Linked DNA regions of Homo sapiens. The protein of the gene in region 3 interacts with the protein of the main gene of each other region in a biochemical or structural test. Each region holds a gene or a part of one and is shown on either strand. Other genes may lie near its edges.

Region 1 (7,507 bases), on a different chromosome or scaffold from region 3:
TCTCTCTTCCCATCCCCCAGTGATTTTCTAGATAATATGATGGTAGTAGAAACAGAACAAAGAAACTCTCATTTTTACACTTGCCTTTATGAGGCAGCATAATAGATAGCTTACTTTGATTATGGTTTGCTGACACAGTTTGGTTTAGACTAATTGGCAGAGTGGCAGATCTTTGTCTAATTCTGTCTTCCAGGTTGTGCCTAGCACATTACTGGTGCTCAAATGTTAATAAAACAGCAATGCATGCCAAGTATCTGATGTCCTAGATGCTGAGTGGTGATATGCATTATTGACATATGTAGATAAGTAGGTTATACATAGTGTGAAAATTAGCTTTAATTGAAGTTAAATGATAGCTTAGAAGTTGACAGTGAGTTAGTCATTTTGTTGGTGGATAAGACATACTATTATGTCTTACCTGAGGTGATTGATGTAATTCAGTGTTACAGTAGAGCACACAGAGAAAAAAGACTTGGGTGTGCAACTGGAATTCCTAACTCTTGCTGTGAGATCTGGCAGAGAGGCATTCCTGTCTGGTGTAGAAGGTCCCCTCTAGCATCCCCCCTCCCCATGGGGCAAGGAGTTCCATACTCTCTGAGCACCTGGAACCCTGGTCCTGACTGCCTTGCCACTTCCAGACCTCATCTTCCAAGGCTGGCCCCTGGCCCGAGGAATCACCAAGGGGTGGCTTTTTTGAGGGGTGTGATATCACTTAGATGTGTAGGCTGGGTTGTCCTTGTCCTTTTTTTTTTTTTTTTGAGATGGAGTCTCACTCTGTCACCCAGGCTGGAGTGCAGTGGCTTGATCTCAGCTAACTGCAAGCAACCTCCACCTCCCAGGTAAAAGCAAATTTTCTGCCTCAGCCTCCTGAATAACTGGGACTATAGGCACACGCCACCACGCCAGGCTAATTCTTGTATTTTTAGTGGAGACAGGGTTTCACCATATTGGTCAGGCTGGTCTGGAACTCCTGACCTCGCGATCTGCCCACCTCGGCCTCCCAAAGTACTGGAATTAGTACAGGCATGAGCCACCGCACTAGCTGGGTTGTCCTCTTATGTGTGAGCCTTTCCATGGGATAGGATGAAGCTGAGATGGAAAGAAAAGGGGATTCCAGTTGCAGACCAGATACCAGTACTCCCTGCAGTAGTACTCAGTACTCCCCCAGTTAATTTGTAGCTTTTAGTATTTATGATAGAGTATATGGATCCCCATTTGTTAGCTGGCTCCAGAACTTTCTAAAGTTAAAGGCAGTCCGGGAACTAGGACAAGTCATGTAGCCTATTTTAGTGTCAGTTCTTCATCTGTAAATAAGATAACACTGTCCCACTAGCCTCAGAGAGTTGCAATGATGAGAATAATCTTAAATATAACTACCATTTATTGAGTATATACTGTTGTTAAACCACTATGCAAGGCACTTTGCATGTATTATCTTGGATCGTCACAAATCTTCAGGGTATGCAACTTTTTCTTTTTTTGTGACAGGGTCTTGCTCTGTTACCCAGGCTGGAGTGCCATGGTGTGATCATAGCTCACTGCAACCTTGAACTCCGGGGCTCAAGATAACCTCCCACCTCAGCCTCCTGAGTAGCTAGGACTGCAAGTGCACCCCACCATGCCCCGCTCCTTTTTTTTTTTTAAGTTTTTGTGCAGCCAGTGGTCTTGCTATGTTGACCAGGCTGGTCTTGAACTCCTGGCCTCAAGCTATCCTCCTGGTTCAGCCTCCCAAAGTGCTGGGATTACAGGTGTAAGCCACTTTGCCTGGCCAGACTATTCAATTTGTACTCTCTTTTTATAAAACAGAAAACAGGCTCAGAGAGGTTAAGTTTCCTCTCCCAGTTTTCTCCCCGCAACCAGGGACACAAGTGAGATAATGTATGTAAAAATCTCATACAAATACAAGGTAACATGAACTACTTCATGTATCCATTTAATACCTATTTGTTGGCTGCCTGTCTTGTGTTGAGGATATAGCAGTAAATAAAAGGGACAAACATCCCTGACTTAGAAGCTTACATTACAGTGGAGGGATAAAACAATAAATAAAATAAATAAGTATAGATGGTTCTCAATTTACGATGGTCAATAAATTGACTTTCGATTTTTCCACTTTATAATGGGTTTATCAGGGTATTAAATGCATTTCTGACTTACAATATTTGCGACTTACAATGGTTTCTCAGGATGTAACCCCATCCTAAGTGGGCAAGCACCTGTACAATATACAGTATGTTAGGTGGTAAGTAAAGCGACGAAGATAACCAGAGTGTATGGAGTTACAGGGAAGGTGACATTCAAATGAAGATATGATGACAATGAGGAACAACATTCTATATTTTGGTTGTTGTGTGTGTGCATTTTTCTTTTTGTTTTTTGTTTTTGTGGGTGCAAGTGGGGTGGGGAGAGGGGGAGAGATAATCCAGGCAGTAGAGGGAACAGCAGATGGAAAGGTCATGAGACTGGAATTTGCTGTTTCAGAAACAACATGGAGGCTAATGTGCTTGGGAACAGAATAGTAGAAGAGGTCAGAGAGATAAAGGTCCATAGGATATTCAGGCCATGGTAAGACTTTGGCTTTTACCTTGAGTGGTATGAGGAGCTAAGCAGAGGAATGATTTGAGAAGGAGTGAAAAGAATTCACACTTTGGCTGCTGTGTTGGAAATGAACTGTATGGCAAGCAAGGTTAGAAAGAGGGGGACCAGGTGGGTGGTTATGACAAAGTGCTGGCCAGACATGATGCTGGATTGCACCAGGGTCATGGCAGTAGAAGTGGTAGATAAAGGTTAGAGTTCAGATATGGCATTCTGGAGGTTGAGCTGACGATTTTTACTGACACTTTTGAGGTATAACAGAAAGAAAGGAGTCAAGGAAGTCAACGTTTTCACCCAGGAAGTGAGAATGGTGTAGATGTGATTAACAGAGGATGGGGAAGGCTGTGGGTGTCTGAGACAGGAGATCTGGAGCCTGGTTTGCACATGTGAATTCTGAGATGTCTATTAGACACCAGGTGGAGATGTCAGTTATATTTTTTCACTTCATTGGGTTTGAATTCTTTTATCTGCCTCTCTCCTTTTTTCAGAGCTGTATTGGCACTTATTCATGTTCCTTTGCTTTCAAGGTAGTGGCCTATGTCATAGAGAATTTGATGTTGGCGCTCAACTAAGAGGTGAAAGAGAAATATAGAGAAGCAGTTCCAGCAAGAGTAATATAAAAAGGTCTACAGATACAATTTGTAACTCAGATTCCCTTTCACAAGGTTGGGCAGGGACAGTCCCTTTGCTAGGAAGTCACACAAGCTGTTTAGTGCACACAGGTGACTTAAGGAACCCCAAAATGTTAGCTGACAATCTATTCCAAGTGTTTAAACTAGATGTTGAAAATCATGTTTGAAAAGTTCAACGCAGTAGCTCATACATAAAACTCATTGTGTCTATAGATATCAAAATAAGAACTTGTGGGGGGTGGGGGCAAACAAAAATAAATCCCTGGGACCAGAACAGCAGAGTGGTCCCCGATGCTTGGGCTGACCTTAACACACCTCTACGTGGCCGGGGCAAGGAGTGGGGGGGAGCTGAGGGAATCAGCAGGAGCGGTGACATCTTGAAGGACGAGGTATTGTTTCTGCACCATGTGGGTCCGGTTTGGAAATTTGAGCATCTAGAGGAGGAGGCTTGTTCTGTCCAAGGCAAAGCCAGACCTACCAATAAATGTTTCTGATTATGTCACAGAACTTGCCATCCTGGTCTGTCGCTAAGGAGTGATCAACTTTAAATCTGGAGTGTTTGTTGGTCTAGGGGTGGTAGTGGGTCTGGTGTTGAAACCTCTCTGCCTAATTTCGTGGTCATTTTACTGTCTGAGGTGCCAGAGTGGGCTTGGAAAGCAGGGGAGGGTGCAGCAAATTACAAATAAGCAAAATAAATCCTAAGAGGATTTATCGCCACAGAAGCAACTCGGACGCAACTCTTGGGCTCAAAAAGAATGCCCAGTACAGCCCGGGCTGGTGGGCCGGTCTTTTGCCCAAGGTTAGCTTTCAGCCCCTGGGCGGCGGCGTGGCGCCAGGAGCGGGCGGGGAGCAGCGACCCGACGCGGCTGGGTCTCCTAGTAGGGCGCGTCGGGTGTGGGGAGGGGGCGCGGCGTGAGACAGTGGGGGACACTGCGTGAGGAAAGCCCTGCGCTTCTCTCCGGGGCACCAGGACTTGCGCCCCCTCTTCGGGTCCAGGCCGCGCGCGGGACCCGACAGCCCGGCCGAGGGCTCCGCGACCCACTTGCGGCCAGAGCGCTGCTCACCTGGGCGCCGCCGAAGGTGCCGCTCAGACGCGAGGGCGCGGCCGCTGGCGGGCGGGGAGCGGGGAGGCGGGACCCGGCGCGACGGGGCTGCCCCGCCCCCCGATGATGCGGCGGCCGCCGACTCGCCCCCACGCTGTCACTCATTCCTCACCATGGTTGCAGCACAAAGCAACAAGCCCCAGAGGCCGCTTCCTCCCTGAGGAGCGGCTCCGGCGGCCGGAGAAGGCGCAGGAGGAGGAAGAGGCGGAGGAAGAGGAGGGGAATCGCCGCTTCCCAAACACTCTCTCCGAGGGGGCTGTGCGCGGCTCTCGGCTTTCGGCCCTCGGACGCCCGCGCCGGGAGTCCGAACCCGGGCTGTCCGCGGCCCCCTCTTCCCCCTCCTCCGCCCCGCGCAGACGAGGAACAAAGTTGCCGAGAGCGACTGGGCCGGAGGGCTGCAGCCCGGGCCGGGTGCTCTGGCCGCGGCGGCGCCGGCGCCGGGGCAGCTCCGCTCCGGGCGCGCTGATGGGGGGAGGCGGCGGCGGCGGAGCCCACAGCGGCGGCCCGAGCAGCAGAGGCGGCGGCGGCGGCGGCTGGGCGGCCCGAGGGGATGCAGCAGCAGTCGGGAGGGACGGCCGAGCCCAGTAGACAGAGACCAGGAGCGGCGGCCGAGGCGATCGGGCTTCGCAGCGCCCGGACCTGAGCCAGACCCACCTGGTCCGTCCTCCCGACCGGCGGCCGAGGCGCCCGAGGACTGGGGACGCGGAAGATCCAAGTGATTCTCGGAGACCCCTGGGCGGCGGCTGCGCAAGCCCCTGAGAGGAGGGGGCGACCCTCAGCGCCGTGGGGGAGGAGGCTCCGCCTGCCCACAGCCCTCCCCACTGCCACTCGTACCTCCCTAAAAATAACTCGGGCCCGCTGGGGCCAGGAGGAGCCGCCACTGTCCCCCGAGTGGAGCCGGGGAGGCGTGTCGAGCCAGGGCCGGAGGAAGCCGGCGGAGCGGCGAGGAAGAGGAGGAGGAGGAGGAAGGGGAGTTCCGCCTGCGGGCCGCATCGCACGGCAGCCTAGGGGCGCCGCGACCCTCCCGGCTGCGTCCAGCCCCTCGCGCCTGTACCGCGCTCTCGGCCGCCGGGCCCAGCCGAGCCGCCCCCCCGCGGGCCCCGCGCCGCCGCCGCCGCGGTTTGGCTGATTAGTCGCGGGCGGGCGGGCGGGCGCAGCGCGCAGGGCGGAGGCAGCAGCGGCGCTGGGCCGGGAGGAGGCCGGCCAGGGTGCGGAGCGGCCCCGGCCCGCTCCCAGAGGGGAGATGGCGTCCTACGTAGATAACAGCTTCCGCCAGGCGGTGATGAAGAATCCCCCCGAAAGGACCCCCCAGGTGAGAACGCGGCGGCCGCCTGCCCTTGGCCGGATTTCTGCCTCGCAGGCTGCGTCTTCCCCTGTCCCCCCACCTCCTTCCTGACACAGTTCGCCCCGAGCACCCCACTTCTTGCATCAGGACCCCCAACTTCCAAAGGCATCCCACCTCCGAGTCTTTTACTCCGCCTATCCTGGTTTTATTTTTCCCTCTCCTTGACATTCTGCTCCTTAACTCTTCCCTCCCCATGACTGACCTTTCCCACTATGTTGCCCAGCCGAGAGAGAGAGAGAGAGAGAGAGAGAGAGAGAGAGAGGGAGAGACAGAGAGAGAGAGAGAGAGAGTGTGTGTGTGTGTGTGTATGTGTGTGAATGTGTGAATTCTCTAGCTTTCCCTCTCCCCAGCCGCCCTCCGTGGCCTCTGAATCTCAGGGGATGGAGTCTCATCTCCCCTCGGGCAGCGACTCTTGCTCCCTCTGACTCCAGATCCGTTCCTCCCCTTGCAAGTGACCCTTGGAGTTCAGTGGTGTTTGAAAGGTATAGGAGGAAACCTGTACGGTTGTGCTAAAGACAAATCCATGCTGACCTTCAGTAAAACATTGAGGTGTTTGTATGTTTACTGTTTTGCTTTTATTTTTTAAAGGATACTGCTTTCAATTGAAGGGAAAAAAAGTTGAATAGCTAAGTTAGTGCTTTTAGTTTAAATTGCAGACATAGCTGCAGAGCAGGCATGTTCCAGTACACCCTCGGGAAGGGCACCCTGCGGATTCTTTTGGTGTTGCACAACCTTGTCAAAATTAGATAAGTTTGTTAACCTTTATACATTTGTTTACCTGCAGGCTTACTCTTCTCTTACTTATAGCGGCTGATAGGGTTGGATTTGGTTGTCTCAAGTTTTACTGGAGAGGGGGAAATTTTATAAAAATGTGGTAGCTTAATTTTCTCCGCCTTTAGTTGCTGACTGGATAATGACGCATATTCCTAAGCGTTGGGATGGTGACTATAGGAGATCCTGCCTGCCAACCCTCTTAAGACAAATAAGCCCTCCTGATCCTTGGGACCATCAGACATTTAGGATCTAATGCTTGAAAGTGTTGCTTCGCTTGTTAGATGTTGGATGCCATCTGTTCAAATCCAAATGCTCTCCTTCTCTGATGTTGATTATTATTTACTGTGGGGAGAGCATAATAAAATAGACTCTTCCCCTGGCTGCCTTTGGACAAGCCCCAAGAGTGGCACCTGGTACCGTTTTTGATTTTTCATTTTCCTTGATGGAGCTGTCACATCTGGGAGATCATGGATAGATTGCACATATTTATCAAACGTGTGGAAGATGGCTGTAATTTTACAAGAAAATTTATCTGTCTCCAGAAAGTTCCCATTCTAAAAGACTATTTTTATCCCAACAAGGAATGTCCTGCATTGATCTTGTTCTTCTCTTGGTGTTGCACACGCTGCCTTTCCTATGCCTTTCTCATCTATTTGTTTTAAAATGGTCAGTTGGATCAGTCTTCTGCATCTGAAAATGCACATTCCCTGTCTCAGTGTGAAGGAAAAGCAGATTTCAGTGAGATATTTCATTTCCTTTCAAGAATATTGTTTTAAGTGCCAAGTGAAATTACGCATGCTGAGAATATTAGAACCTAGCAAGGCTGGTCAGAAAATGATGTCAGAGGCCTTTGGTGGAAATTAGAGAAGGGGGAAGTGGTGCATTTGGTTGATTAGTTAGAAGAATAACAATGACTAAAACCTACTATCAGGTTGGGGGGCGGGTCACCAAACAAGACTAGAAGAGACAAAACCTCCACTGTGACTGTGGGCCCACTGTGCCAAATAAATGAACTGTTAAACTTTCCTGTTCCCCTGCCAGTTGTGTAGAATAGAGTA
Region 2 (7,031 bases), on a different chromosome or scaffold from region 3:
CCCAGGGAAGGCTTCCGTGAGGGAATGAGTGCCAGCTGTGAGCATGCACGCCCATGGTGAAGGGGTGGAGCCCGAGTCCCAGGAAGACAGCACTGCCAGTTATTGAGGCCAGACCTCCCTCTTCGAAAGCCAAGGGGAAAACCCATCAACCTCCCAGAGAAGAAGTCTGAAGACAGCTCTTTCTGTTCCTACCTAGACCAGGACAAGAGAAAATGAAAGCGGGTTACAGTAGGAGGGCTTGCAGTTAGATACAGACTAAGATAAGACTTAACAGCTATTGCAAAAGTGACACTGGAATGGGATGGAAGAACATCTTTGGAAAATAAGAGGGGGAGGTGAGATCTTGTCTGATGTCCGGGGGCAGGGGCAAGATCAGAGTGACCTGTGGTGGGTTCTACTAGCTCAGGGAAGTCTGAGATGATTCTCTTTGTGTGACTGTTCTTGGGGAAGTGGCCCTGTTTTGTAACTCCGAGAACGCACTTTCATTCAACCTATCCAAATAATAGTAGTAGTTAATAGTTATACAGTACTTATGTGCCAGACATTATTGAAAGAGGTTTGCCTTTATCATATCAAATAATTCTCACAACAGCCCTGTGAGATAGGTACTAATGTCATCATCTCCATTTTATAGATGTGAAAACAAAGCCACAGAGAGGTTAAGTGACAGATTCAGAGTTACGCAGCTGCTAAGTGGCAAAGCTGGGCTTTGGTCCCAGGCAATCTGGCTGCAGAGTCCAAGCTCATAACCACATAACCACCATGCTGCACTTCTCTCTTGCTACGAACAGTAACACTGACACCTTAAGGCATCATCCCGGCCCCATGCACCCTTCCCCTGTCCCACCACAAGCAGCCCTAGCTTGACACCTTAGCTATGGCCCAAGGGAACTGGTCTGACAGGTCCCCAGGCTGTCTGGCTCTGTGCCTGTCTCTCCAGCCCAGCTCTGACATTCAGTGACAGGGAGTGAGGGTGGGGCAGGCCACAGTGCTGGTGCCAGGGGAGTTAGTGCCTCCTCTTCCGCCCTGAACCCTTTCTGTTCAGGAATGAGAGTGGGGAGTGGGTGAGGAGGACCTTCACCTTGACTCATATCAGCTGCTTCTTCCCAACTGAGAACCCTGAAACTGACATGACTAGCATTGTATTTTTTTGCACTGTGTCCTGGTAATAGGGCCCATCATGAAATAATAACATCTGATCAAGTCAACTAAACTTACTAAGTAGTTACTATGATCCAGGCACCATTCCAAGTACTTTATATTATTAACTTTTTGATCCTCATAACCCTTTGTGATAGGTACTATTCATATCATCAACCCCAGTTTACAGATGAGGAAACCGAAGCACTGCAAACTTCAGTAATCAGCACGAGCTCACACAACCAGATGGTAACGCAAAAGCTAGGATTTGAACCCAAGCATCTGGCTGCAGAGCCTACACACTTGACCACTGCCCTTGAATAGCAGCCCTCTCTCCGCCCCATCCTAGAAGGTTGGCAGGCACACAAACATCCTGGGGGCACAGAGAGGGTAGAATAACAAACCTGTCTATCTTTGTCTAACCCAGTGGTTTCCAAACTTACTTGCCCACAGAACTTGCCTGAAGGCAGAATACCTCTACTGTCTGTGCCTATAGCACAAAGCTGAGGAAACATGGGAATAGGCATAATGGAAGACGGTAGGGCATAATGCTAAGAGCATGGCCTTTGGAATCAGACATAGGTATGAATCCTGGTGCCCTTATTGACCAACAGTTAGGGCAGGTTATAGAACCTTGGAGCTTTCTTTTCTCTAGCTGTGAAATAGGAAACAAATACCTACCTCTGGGGTCAGCACCAGTAGCAGAGTTATTCAGTAGAATCTTACCTTTCTAAATAGTTGTGTGATCTCTCTGGGCTTTTGCTTTCCTTGTCAAAATGAGAGGGATTCCTTAAAGTCCCTTCCTCAGTGCTCATGGACTAGGGCCATTCTCTGACCTGCATCCTCATCCCCTGGGGGAGGACAGGAAATGACCAACCTGGCCACGTGACCCAGCACCACCCCTCCTAATGTGCCCTCTCCCAAGTCAGAATAATACCAGGAAGGGGGCTGGTGCTGGAGCCTGGGTTGTGGGCTCCAATGGGAGTTGGGGCAGGGACTGGGGCCACCTGGGCATTTTGATATGAACAACAAGTCATTAGCACTCAGGCACTGTTTGTTCCGACACAGGGGGCTGGCTGGGTAGCATTCCTGCCCTTCCTCCCTTCCCTGGCTCCTCCTCCTTCTCATTTCCTGTCGTTAAGTCTCCAGGGCTCTGTGTCTGGCACTGGGCTGGGCCCCATGACCCGGGCAGGGATACCCTTGGGACACCTAGTGACTTCCGCCCAGCCCTGGGCCAGGCGCCTGCACATGCCAGACCTCAGGCCTCTGCTTGGGCACGCAGTGCCAAGATGCCTGTGCCCAGGGCCCTGCCAGCACCAGGACTGGTTGTACTGCAACTCCCCAGCAGGTCCTTTTCAGGGACCTGAAGCCAGATGGGAAGCTAGGAGAGAGGTGGCTGGTGAGGGGAGAGGAAAGGGGCAGGTGGGGTGGGTGTAGGGAGACTGAGAATGGGAGCACTTCTGGGTGGGAACTTGAACTTCTCCACAGCTGTCTGGCTGTCCGAAGTATGCGCAACTGAGTTACACAAGGTACCTCACCTCCAGGCTTTTATTTCCTTGTAAGTGACAGAGGACAGACAATGCCTGCTCTGCCTATTTCACATCTGATCCTATTTTACATGAGATCCAATGAAATCAAGGGGGCGATTGTGCTTTGTAAACTGTAAAGTGCTTTGTAAACTGTAAAGTGAGCCCTTTGAGAGGGCTCGTAGATGGTAGAGCATCCTGTCCAGAGATGTCCACAAACCCCAGATTCTCAGGTGGTAGGAAGAGAAGGGTCGTGAGGGGCTTTCATGGCCATTATTCCAGGGCGTACAGGCCCGGGAGTTCCAAATGGCTTGTTACCAAGGGCAGGGAATCCTTACTAAGCAGTGTTTCCATGATAAAGTGCGTCTTCCTGAGCCAGTCCTGTGTGCCACCAAGGACTTATTCACTCTCGCAGGGCACAGGCTAGCAACATCTCAGAGAAGAAAGACGCTTTCCAGCAAGCAGCCCCACCCTAATGCCTCACAGATGAGTACTAGCTAACATGTGCATACAACTATATGCCAGGCAATGCTTTAAACATTCGATGTGTAGCAACTCATTTAATTCTCCCAAAACCTCATGAGTCGGTATTATTAGTGCTTTGTAGATTTTACAGTTCAGGAGACTCAGGTAGGGAGGGAGAGGTTAAATCATTTGTTTCAGGTCACATCTGCCATCAGTGGGGAAGCAGAGATTTTAATCCAGGAGCCTGGCTCCAGGGTTTGTGTTTTGACAACCAGGCTGATCCGAGGCCCAGAGATGGCAAGACACCTGCTCATGGGCCTGTGGAAGGACACAGAACCTGGCTGGGGATCAGGTCTGTGACCCCAGCCCAGGAGCGGATGTTCCCAGGCCTCCTGAGCTGCTCACATCCTGGCTCCCATCTCCCAGGTCTTCTTATCTCATGTCCTCATGCTCCTTCCAGCTCCCTCACTTCTTTCCCCCAACAGGGGCAGTTCACCTGGGGGCATGGGCACACCTGGGCCCTGAGTAAGCAGAATGGGTGTCTTAGGGCTCTCAACTGTAGGGAGGCAGTCCTTGAGTTGGGTTTGGTGATCAGGATGGCAGGGTGGGAAGAGGCGATGCCCGGGGCACAGGGTGCTGAGTGAATATTTGTTTATTTGCTGAAGGAGTGGCCACATGGATGCATTTGGGGTTGGGGCCTAGGCAAGAGTGGGAGTGATGGGGGAGGGGAGGTATCCAAGAGCTGGGCTTGAAGACCTCACACTGATGTGCACGCTTTCCCTGCTGCCCCCAGACACCACTCACCAACAGCGAGGAGTCCCTGGATTTCAGCGAGAGCCTGGAGCAGGTAGAAGCCTGGGCAGGGTGGAGCTGGGACAGGCAGCACCATGAGGGGTTCAGAGCCTGAACTGCTGTGCCCTTCCTCCCTCTAAGGCCTCCACAGAGCGGGTGCTCAGGGCTGGGAGGCAGCTGCATCGGCATCTGCTGGCCACCTGCCCAAACCTCATCCGAGACCGGAAGTACCACCTTAGGCTCTATCGGTGAGTGGAGGCCCTGCTGCCTCCTTGCCCAGCCTCACTGCTTTCTCTCCGTTCCACTTTATGTCAGGCACCTGGGCCTCACCCTGCTTCTAGCACAGGGACGAACCAGGCTTGGGCCTCAGAGGGTGCCTTTCTAATGCATAGTTCCTCCCTCTCCCTGCCACCCTCCTTCCACTGGCCTGTCCCCTTCTACCTTCCATAGGCAGTGCTGCTCTGGCCGGGAGCTGGTGGATGGGATCTTGGCCCTGGGACTTGGGGTCCATTCCCGGAGCCAAGTTGTGGGAATCTGCCAGGTGCTGCTGGATGAAGGTGCCCTCTGCCATGGTGAGCCCGAGCCCAGGGTGGGGTGCCCCGGGCTGGGCTGGGCAGTGAGGGGGACAGGACAGGGCAGTCCTGGGAAGCAGGCACTACTTGGGGAGTGCTGAGGGGTGGCATCGCAGTGGGGTTTCATACCCACATAGCCTCAATTTCCTCTCCTCCCCCACGCCTGGGCCTCTGCCCCCCAGTGAAACACGACTGGGCCTTCCAGGACCGAGATGCCCAATTCTACCGGTTCCCCGGGCCCGAGCCCGAGCCCGTGAGAACTCATGAGATGGAGGAGGAGTTGGCCGAAGCTGTGGCCCTGCTCTCCCAGCGGGGGCCTGACGCCCTGCTCACTGTGGCACTTCGAAAGCCGTGAGTCAGAATCCCTGCACCCCGTGACCCCAGGCCTCACACAGCACTCAGATTTCACGGTTTCTCAGATTGATCTCTGGGGGCATCCCTTACCTGTTGTGGAGGGAAGGGAACCTGGCTGGCCCAGAAGCCCCTGGCGCTGACTGCCACGGACTCACTGTGTGACCTGGATCCCTCCACACTCCCAAACCCCCCCAAGTCAGTTTCTTCCTCTGTAGATGAGGATGTTGGACCAGGGGGATCTCTGAGGACCCTTCCCACTCAGAGACACAGTTGTGGCTGAAAGCAAGTGGGTTTTGGAAACTGCAGTCCGGTGGGTCCAGGTTCAAATTCCAGCTGGACTGGCTACTGGCTGGGTGACCTTGAGCCTCCTCATGCTAGTTCCTGTTCTGTCAAGTGAGGATGATAGAACCACTCCTTAGGGTTGTTGTGAAACAATGCATGCAAAATGCTCATCACAAGCGCTGCCACATGTGCGCACTCAGTAAAGGTTAGCTGCTGCTGATAACTGTCACTGCTGAGGCACCGTCTGGCACAGGCATCGGCTGGGTGGGTGGAGTGGCTCCCTGCACCTGACGGGCCCACAGTTCACAGTGTGCTCCCATTCCTCCTGTCCCTGCAGCCCAGGTCAGCGCACGGATGAAGAGCTGGACCTCATCTTTGAGGAGCTGCTGCACATCAAGGCTGTGGCCCACCTCTCCAACTCGGTCAGTCCTGCCCCTCCCAGCCCTGCCCCGTACCAGGCATCTTCTCTTCCTGTGACTTCCCTGAAACTCCAACTGCTGGGCCAGAGGGCATTTCTCCACTTCCATCTATGGCTGGAAATTTTCAGTCTGATTTCTTGCCCCCGGCGCTGCCCTGTCTGAAAATCCTTCCGCCTCTCTCAGCCCATTTTCTCCACTTGCTTTGTCTCCTGCTGAATCCTGGGAACACCTGACCTGGCCACATCTTTGTCCCCCAGCACTTGTGTCTTTGGACCTAACCACACCCCTAGCAAAAGCCTGGCTGCTCTGCACATGAACTTGTCGCCACCGACTCTCCTATCTCCACCACACAGGTGAAGCGAGAATTAGCGGCTGTTCTGCTCTTTGAACCACACAGCAAGGCAGGGACCGTGTGTAAGTCCAGCAGGGCATAAGAAGCCAGGCACAGGGCCTGGACATGGGCAGAAGGATGTGTGAAGGAATGGTAGGTGCCAGGAGGGCCCGGTCTGAGGTATGCTTCTGTCAGTGTTCAGCCAGGGGGACAAGGGCACTTCGTGGTACATTATCTGGAAGGGATCTGTCAACGTGGTGACCCATGGCAAGGTGAGCCCTCCCTCCTCCCCACCCCAGTGCCCTGGGTCCTAACTGCTCCCTGGTCCATGTCCTCATGGGCAGTGCCTTTGTTGATCTACTGCTGCTGACCCCGTGTCTCCTGTGTGGGTTGTTCTCCTGCCGTGGGTCTGTCCTGGCAAGAGCTGGGGGCGGCAGGGGCGGCAGGGGCGGGCTGAGACTGAGGCCTGGCTGCAGGGGCTGGTGACCACCCTGCATGAGGGAGATGATTTTGGACAGCTGGCTCTGGTGAATGATGCACCCCGGGCAGCCACCATCATCCTGCGAGAAGACAACTGTCATTTCCTGCGTGTGGACAAGCAGGACTTCAACCGTATCATCAAGGTGCTGCTGCTGGGGTTGGGGAGGGCAGGGGCCATTCGTCCAGAGAAGTGATGTGGAGAGAGGAGTAGGGACCAGAGCAGAGGGCCTGTAAGAAGCAGGGCAGGTAAGAGATGCTGGGCTATGACAGCTGGCAGTGGGACCATAGCCCTGGGTGTGTGTGAGAAGGTGAAGCCCATAAGGCACAGAAGGAGTTCAGTGAGACCAGTGACTTCAGGCTCAGTGTGGGAGACCAGGGGAAGGATGGGCATGCAGGGGGCGGGGGACTAGGCTGTGGGGGAGGCAGGATGCATGGAAGGTAGGGAAGGCTGAGGAGGTGGAGCCAAAGTCGGAGGTGGGAGAAGGGCTGTGGGTCCCTGTGGGACCCTCATGGGGCTCAGGGGCTGGAATGAAGGAGGTAGATGAGAGGGTCTAAAGCTGGAACATCATGAGTTGAGCATGGGATGTGGCCTGTTCTCCAGGATGTGGAGGCAAAGACCATGCGGCTGGAAGAACATGGCAAAGTGGTGCTGGTGCTGGAGAGAGCCTCT
Region 3 (7,000 bases):
GGCACTAAAGGAAATGAGATGGCCTGGGTGCAGTGGCTCACACCTGTTATCCCAGCACTTTGGGAGGCCAAAGACAGGAGGATCCCTTGAGTCCAGTTCAAGACCAGCTTGGACAATATAGTGAGACCCTGTCTCTACAAAAAATTAAAAAAAAAAAAAAGCTAGGTGTGGTGGTATGCACCTGCAGTAGCACCAGCTCCTCAGGAGGTTATGGTGGGAGGATTTCTTGACCCTGGGAGGTTGAAGCTGCAGTGATCTGTGTTCACACCACTGCACTCCAGCCTGGGTGACAGAGAGAGACCCTGTTTCAAAAAAAAAAAAAAAAGAGGAAGTGAGATGGATAAAGAAAAAAGTAGTGAGTAATGGAGGATAAGATGCTTGGAAATTAGATTAGAGAGGTATTATACTTATTGGTAATCACATAGCCTAGAGTAAAACCATGGTATGAATGCCTTAAAGGTAGGATGGACATCAAGGAAATGACAGGCCAAGCCAGGGTAGTAAATCATTTATAATATCCATATAGATTCTATATGGATAGTAAAATCACTAAGAATTCTGATTGAATCAGTGTATGTGAAAGAGAGAAAGCAAAAATCTTCAAAGTGTAAGGAGTGATTTTGAGACAAGATTATGCAGCTGTTTGTAAGGTTTTATGCAAGGTACTGGGGACACAAACAAGCAAATAGGCCTTATAACACAGCGTGTTGAGTGCTAGATGGGAGACAGACACGATATTGGATAGCACAAAGTAAAGATCTCTGTGATAGAGAACTTCCTTCTTACAATCTGGACAGAGAAAGAAGAATGCCCGTACACTGTGGATGTGATTTAAAAAAAAAAAAAGCAGAAAGTATTCATTTTAGCTATTAGGGTCTCTGGAAACAAAGGGGAATTCTGCTGATTCAGAAGCTAAAAACATTAGAGAGCAGGAGGGTGGGAGAGGGAGAGATAGCTTGATTCAGCTGATAGAAAATGTAGTTTCAGAAGGTCTTTACCAGAAGCTTGTTGTGAGGGCAAAGGTCCCTGATAAGAGTTAAGCCATTTTCCCAAAAAAGAATGGAAAAATACAGTATAATTAGTACTATATTGTTGTATAAAATCACTCCAATTTGCTTACATGCTTTTTTGAACTATCTGAAATGTTTCCATCATTTATAAAAATTATAGTGGAAAACTTTGTGCTGAATTTTAAACAACTTATCACATTTAAAAATGCCAGCCAGGTGCCATGGCTCACACCTATAATCCCAGCACTTTCAGAAGCAGAGCCAGGAAGAACACTTGAGGTCAGGAGTTCGAGATTAGCCTGGGCAACACAGCGAAACCACCTCTACAAAAAAAATTTTTTTATTAGCTGGGGGTGGTGGTACGTGCCTTTAATTCTAGCTACCCAGGAGGCTGAGGCAGGAAGACTGTTTGAGCCCAGGAGACTGCGGTGAACTATGATTGCACCACTACACCCTAGCCTAGGTGACAGAGCAAGACCTCGTCTCTTAAGCAAAACAAAAAACGAACCCATCCATTTTAAAGCTAAGAATTGCCTAATGTGTCAAGTCTATGTGCATGGAGAAAAATAAACAAAGAAAAGCAAAGATTGCTTAATGTATGTATTTTATGTGGCAGTATAACTGGAAACCATCAGTTATTAATAAAAATTATAAAGGTGATGGTATTAATGAAGAAGAATAAAAGCAAATACACAATTCCATACTGTGTAACAGACATTATGCCTAATGATTTATAATTATTAACTCATTTGCTTATCACAAACACCTTATGATGTACTAACATCATTATACTCATTTAAAGATTAGAAAAAGGAGGCTCAAAATAATTCTAAATCTTCTGAGGAAGATTTTTGCCTTCCTCAGAAAACATGTATCTGTCACCAGCCCCTTGAGATGTCAAAATGCTAGTGAAAAGAAAAAATTATAAAAATTAATGACTATGGTGCCAAGAGACAAGGTCTTATTTAAACCCATAGAAATACAAATATTAACTAAAGCTCTAAATTTAAAATAAATTTTAAAAAATCACTGACAGCATAATCCTTACCTCAATGTAGGAAGAAACCCAACACACAGATTATTACAGGTGAACTTTGTGATATGTGAGCATGAACTACATCAGAGTTGATTTCATATACTTAAGAATCCCTATGTTCAGAGAATTTCTTCTTAATCAGAATGATTACTTTTACTCAGAATTATCTGGATGACAAAACCTACTCAGATGACAAAACCTGCTCACAAATTAAAATCTATCAAAAAAAGAGAAAACATCCTTACTGTCCCTGCAGTATCCAGGATTTCGAGCATACACTGTTGGCAATCGACTTCAACTTGCTGTGGGGGCAAAAAAAAAAAAAAGGTTAAAGAGTAACATCAAAATCTCATTCTGTTTTCTTCCCACCTCTTCCATCAAAGTAACTATTAACAAATACAAAGCCTGTCTCCAGCAGTATGCTGTAATGGCTGGGGGTAAACTTGGTACCACAATAAAGAACAGCGGTCTCAAGTACAGTCTATTCATATTACAGAAGCCAAGATGGTTAATGCTGAGTTTAGATATTTTCTGACCTCTGTAACGATTCTTATTTGTTATTAGAAAAGGCAAAAGTCATATTTTGAAATTTAAGGAAAACTTCAACGAACAAGTATAGTTCTAACAGAAAAAAAAGTACATATGTGTATTTATATTATCTCCAAAGAAAACAAAGTACAAAAATATTAAATGGCTCAAAATGCGCACAACATTTTGGGGTAAAGAAAATCTTGCCAACTTACCATGTTCAAGTTGTTAAAATTTTACTAAAATATGCAGAAAATTAAATACACAGTAAAATCTGAGTTTAAGACATAAAAGAAACACAGGAGTACTAAAATAAACAGCAATGAGCTAAAACAGTGCCTCAAGAAAAAGGCACTTTTCTAGAAAAGCTCTATGTGAAAGGTGAAATTTTATACACTGAGTTCTATTTACCCATTGGTCTTATAAAAGAAAAGAAGGTTGGTCTAATGAAAGTATCAACTATCAACTGTGTGGAAAACTGTTTTAATAAAGAAGGGATTAAGAAAAGTTAGTCCCTTAGAATTTTAGGTACAGATCTTGCTTTGCAGTTAAAGCTTTAACTAGCAACTTACTTTGGGGAAATTTCAGTAGAGCAACACTGTCTTCTAAAAATAAATGTGCTAACCTAAAGACTATTTTAAACTCTGCTTCTGTGTCAGATCAGACATTGATGAGGGGCACCACTGGTCAGACCACAAACTCATCCACCCCACCACTTATGGGACAAGTGTGATAATCTGCAAAATTTGTAACTGGGAATGTTCAGTGAATAATCAATTAGGACTATAGTTTCTTGATGTATCTAGAGCATAATTCTGTTTCCAATTTGAAGACAATGAAACTGCTCTACTAGTAGTCCTTCATGAACTAACAAATTAATTCAACAAAAGTTACAGCACTATTAAAGGTAAATTCTAAAAATGTCTTCAAAAGCAATCCTTTCCTATTAAAGTTTAATCTTTTTAAAAAATATTCTTGGCTACTAGCCTTTTATAACCTCCACCCCACCCAATATATTTGACATAGAAAATACTGAAAATTTTCCACAACTCTGGCTGGTCTTCTACAGAATATTTTTTGTCAAGACCAAGTACCTAATTTTTTTTCCCTTTTAAATAGACTTTATTAGAGCAGTTTTAGTTTCACAGCAAAACTGAGGGGAAGGTGCAGAGATTTCCCACATACTCCTTGCCACCACAAATGCATAGCCTCACCCCACCATCAACATCCTGCACCAGAGTGGTACATTTGTTACAACTGATGAACCCACATGAACACATCGTTATCACCAAGAGTCCACAGTTTACATTAGGATTTTCTTTTGGCATGGTACATTCTATGGGTTTTGACAAATGTATGGCATATAACCCAATTATAGTATTACACAGACTCTAATTTTTTGGTAGTCTAAAGATATCTTTAAACTTATAAAACTAAACAAAAATAAAAATGTTCAGTCACTGGATAACTTCAAGCATAAAGGTGGTCTTAATTGTTGGTAACAAAAGAGTAAGTTGAAAACACACCTACTATTTATATGCAATTTTTTCATATGTGGCAACATTCCCCACCAGGAAAATGTCCACATTAAGGAACAAGTCACTAATCAGTAACAGAACATAGAGCTCTGAATATCAAAGTAGTATTCTGTTAAGAAATGTTCTGTCTTGATGAAACTTTTAAAAACAGATGCACAATATTTGTATTATTTCTCAAAACTATTTTCAAAAAGCAAATCTACAGATCAAATTTTAACATCATAAGGAACTACTTGTAAGCATGTGTGTACAAGTTTCACATTTTACCTTTCTGTAGGAATCTTCTATCGTTGGGTCATATTTTTCAACAAAAATTCCCTGAACAAACTGAACTGTCTGGGGGAAAAAAAAAGAGAAATATTAAAAAATTAAAGGAAAACTCCTTTGAATGTTACTTAACCTACAAATTATAATGATTAATTGAAATTATGTGAAAATTCTGGGTAAACACGTAAATGTAAAGTATATTATTAATTCTTTCAATATAAGGATACATCCATAACTAAGAGTACATTTATTATGAAAGGAGGTAGTCATGTTAAAAACTGTCATCAATACTGATAATACACTGTTAATTACATTAAGTCTTAATATACAAGGATACAAATAACATATCTGAACTAATTAAAACATGAAAAATTATCAATATTTAAACTCCTATTGCCCCTTTATATATCTATAGTAACTTTTATCCCATGCCCTCTGCCCTTAATGGAGTGACAAAGGTTCTAATTTTTTTTTAAACACAGGGTCTTTGCTATGTTGCCTGGGCTGGCCTTGAACTCCTGAACTCAAGAGATCCTCCCGCCTCAGCCTCCCAGGTAGCTGGACCTCAAGCAGCATCTTGTAAATTTGTTAAAGCCTTTCTAAATTGTGGTGGAAAAGAGAAAGGGAAATTTAAACTTACTGAATGTCTATTATGTTCCAGACATTAAGCTAGTCACTTTTAATTTATAACCACATTCAAATTTCACATTTGTCCCAGAAATAGTTATTCTTCCTATTTGCCAGCTGAGATTCAAACATACATCTTCCTGATTCCAAAGCCTTACTTTTTCCATTGGAAAATATTGCCCATTCATCTTTTTCAGATATTATCAACTTTTAAAGGCATCCAAAAGCACATACTAGAAAATACGTATTTATCATTCAGTAAGTGAAAAAAGTACAGAAGACGGTTTTAAGATATTTCCTAGGTAACTTTAAAACAGGGTCTGGTACATTATTGCCTAAAAAGCAAGGGTAAGAATGTGGACTGAGGTCATCTACACTTAAATTACTCAGAGGAATATTTGATATACTATTTTAGCTTGAGCTAAAGAGATTAACTCAAATATAGTAAACAAACTTCTTTCTCCTACTAAGCTTCTATTATTCAAAGGCAACTCAAGATATAATCACACCAAAAACCTTAATCATGATTTTTATCAAGGATTTAATCACCTCATCTTCTAAGTACGACACATAATTTAAATATACAAAGCAGTCTACGCTGGATGCAGTGGCTCATGCTGTACTCCTAGCACTTTAGGAGGCCAAGGCAGGAGGATTGCTTGAGCTCAGGAATTTGAAACCAACCTGGGCAACATAGTGAGACTGTCTCTACAAAAAATTTAAAAATTTAACCAGGTGTGGTGGCATGCACCTGTAGTCCCAGCTACTTGGGTAGCTAAGGTGGGAGGATTGCTTAAGTGTAGGAGGTTGAAGATGCAGTGAGCCATGATCACGCCACTGCACTCCAGGGCAAGATGCTGATTCAAGATTTAAAAAAAAAAAAAAGGCAGTCTAATACAGCTTCCTAATATGCTTTAGGCTAGAGCAGAGAGTCTCAAAATATGGTCCAAGGCAGAGGCTCCCTAAGGTCAAACTATCTTCCTAACAATACTAAGATGTATTCTAAGAGGTACTCTTCTTCTTCTCTCATAAGTTTACAGTGGAATCTTCCAAAGGGTATAGAACATGTGCTATTGAAAGAGACTGGATACAGAAGCAGGCAAAAGAGCCCATGTGCCTTCTATAAGCCAGACATTAATAAGACTTGCAAAAATGCAAAACAATCCAACGTTTCTCATTTCTTTCTTACTAAAAGTAATGTTTGACTACTCCTCTGAATCTTATCCTCTGTCTTAATTTTCAGGGACATCTCATTCATTCATTCACATAGATTATAATTTTATTCCTCAGGTTTTTGTACTGGATCATCTCCTCTTTCCCTCTCCTGTATCCTTATTTTCCTCTCCAGTGGAGAGGAATTGCCCCCAGCATACAAATATGCTTTACTATCTCCAATTCTAAAACAAAAACAAAAACCTCCCTTAACCCCAATATCTCTCCAGCTTCTGCCCCCATTCTCTGTCCCCTCTCATAATCAAGCTTCTTCAAATGTCTATATTCCATTTCCTCAGCTCTCATTTAATCTTCAACCCACCCCATTATGGTTATGGCAACATGACCTGACTAAAGCTGCTTCCTTTATCATGTCCAACTGCCTCTATGCTCTCTGATCATCTCTTTCCTCTTTTTTACTTGACTTTTGAGGAATCAAGTAAAGACACCTTCTTCTATGCTAGATCCTCCAATCCTATCTACTTTCTAAAGGTTGAGAGGTACTCAGAGCTCAGTCCTGGGCTCTGCTCTTCTCTCTCTAGTATCTCCCTAGACCTCTTTCACTCCTATGGACTTTTTCCAAAATTATTTTTGAAAAGGTAATTCATGGACATAGGACTAAATTCAAAAAGGCACAAAAGGCTATGCAGTGATAACTAAGCTTATCTACCACCCTTGTTCCCAGCTATCCAATCCTACTCCCAAGAAAGTAACTGATGTTATTCATAGCTTATTTAACCTTGAAGAGATACTCTATGATTTTACAGGTATCTACCCTCAGC

The links.
Region 1: the proteins of RAP1A (region 3) and RAPGEF2 form a complex in vitro, tested with the Homo sapiens proteins (2 studies listed by BioGRID and IntAct, with this or other methods).
Region 2: of the proteins of RAP1A (region 3) and RAPGEF3, one has a biochemical effect on the other in vitro, tested with the Homo sapiens proteins (one study listed by BioGRID).

The regions. Positions count from the first base shown.
Region 1 is NC_000004.12:159,098,590-159,106,096, forward strand, and holds the start of RAPGEF2 (rap guanine nucleotide exchange factor 2), read left to right. Parts: upstream 1-4,489; 5' UTR 4,490-5,573; coding exon 5,574-5,642; intron 5,643-7,507. UniProt on the Homo sapiens protein: Functions as a guanine nucleotide exchange factor (GEF), which activates Rap and Ras family of small GTPases by exchanging bound GDP for free GTP in a cAMP-dependent manner.
Region 2 is NC_000012.12:47,748,863-47,755,893, reverse strand, and holds part of RAPGEF3 (rap guanine nucleotide exchange factor 3), read left to right. Parts: coding exon of another isoform or gene 1-45; exon of another isoform or gene 46-192; intron 193-1,866; exon of another isoform or gene 1,867-1,960; intron 1,961-3,924; coding exon 3,925-3,978; intron 3,979-4,064; coding exon 4,065-4,171; intron 4,172-4,373; coding exon 4,374-4,495; intron 4,496-4,632; coding exon of another isoform or gene 4,633-4,677; coding exon 4,678-4,846; intron 4,847-5,468; coding exon 5,469-5,553; intron 5,554-5,903; coding exon 5,904-5,964; intron 5,965-6,076; coding exon 6,077-6,153; intron 6,154-6,357; coding exon 6,358-6,504; intron 6,505-6,962; coding exon 6,963-7,031. Other genes in the region: SLC48A1 (heme transporter HRG1), read right to left, coding at 1-45. UniProt on the Homo sapiens protein: Guanine nucleotide exchange factor (GEF) for RAP1A and RAP2A small GTPases that is activated by binding cAMP.
Region 3 is NC_000001.11:111,692,789-111,699,788, reverse strand, and holds part of RAP1A (ras-related protein Rap-1A precursor), read right to left. Parts: intron 4,449-7,000; coding exon 4,380-4,448; intron 2,349-4,379; coding exon 2,292-2,348; intron 1-2,291. UniProt on the Homo sapiens protein: Counteracts the mitogenic function of Ras, at least partly because it can interact with Ras GAPs and RAF in a competitive manner. Together with ITGB1BP1, regulates KRIT1 localization to microtubules and membranes.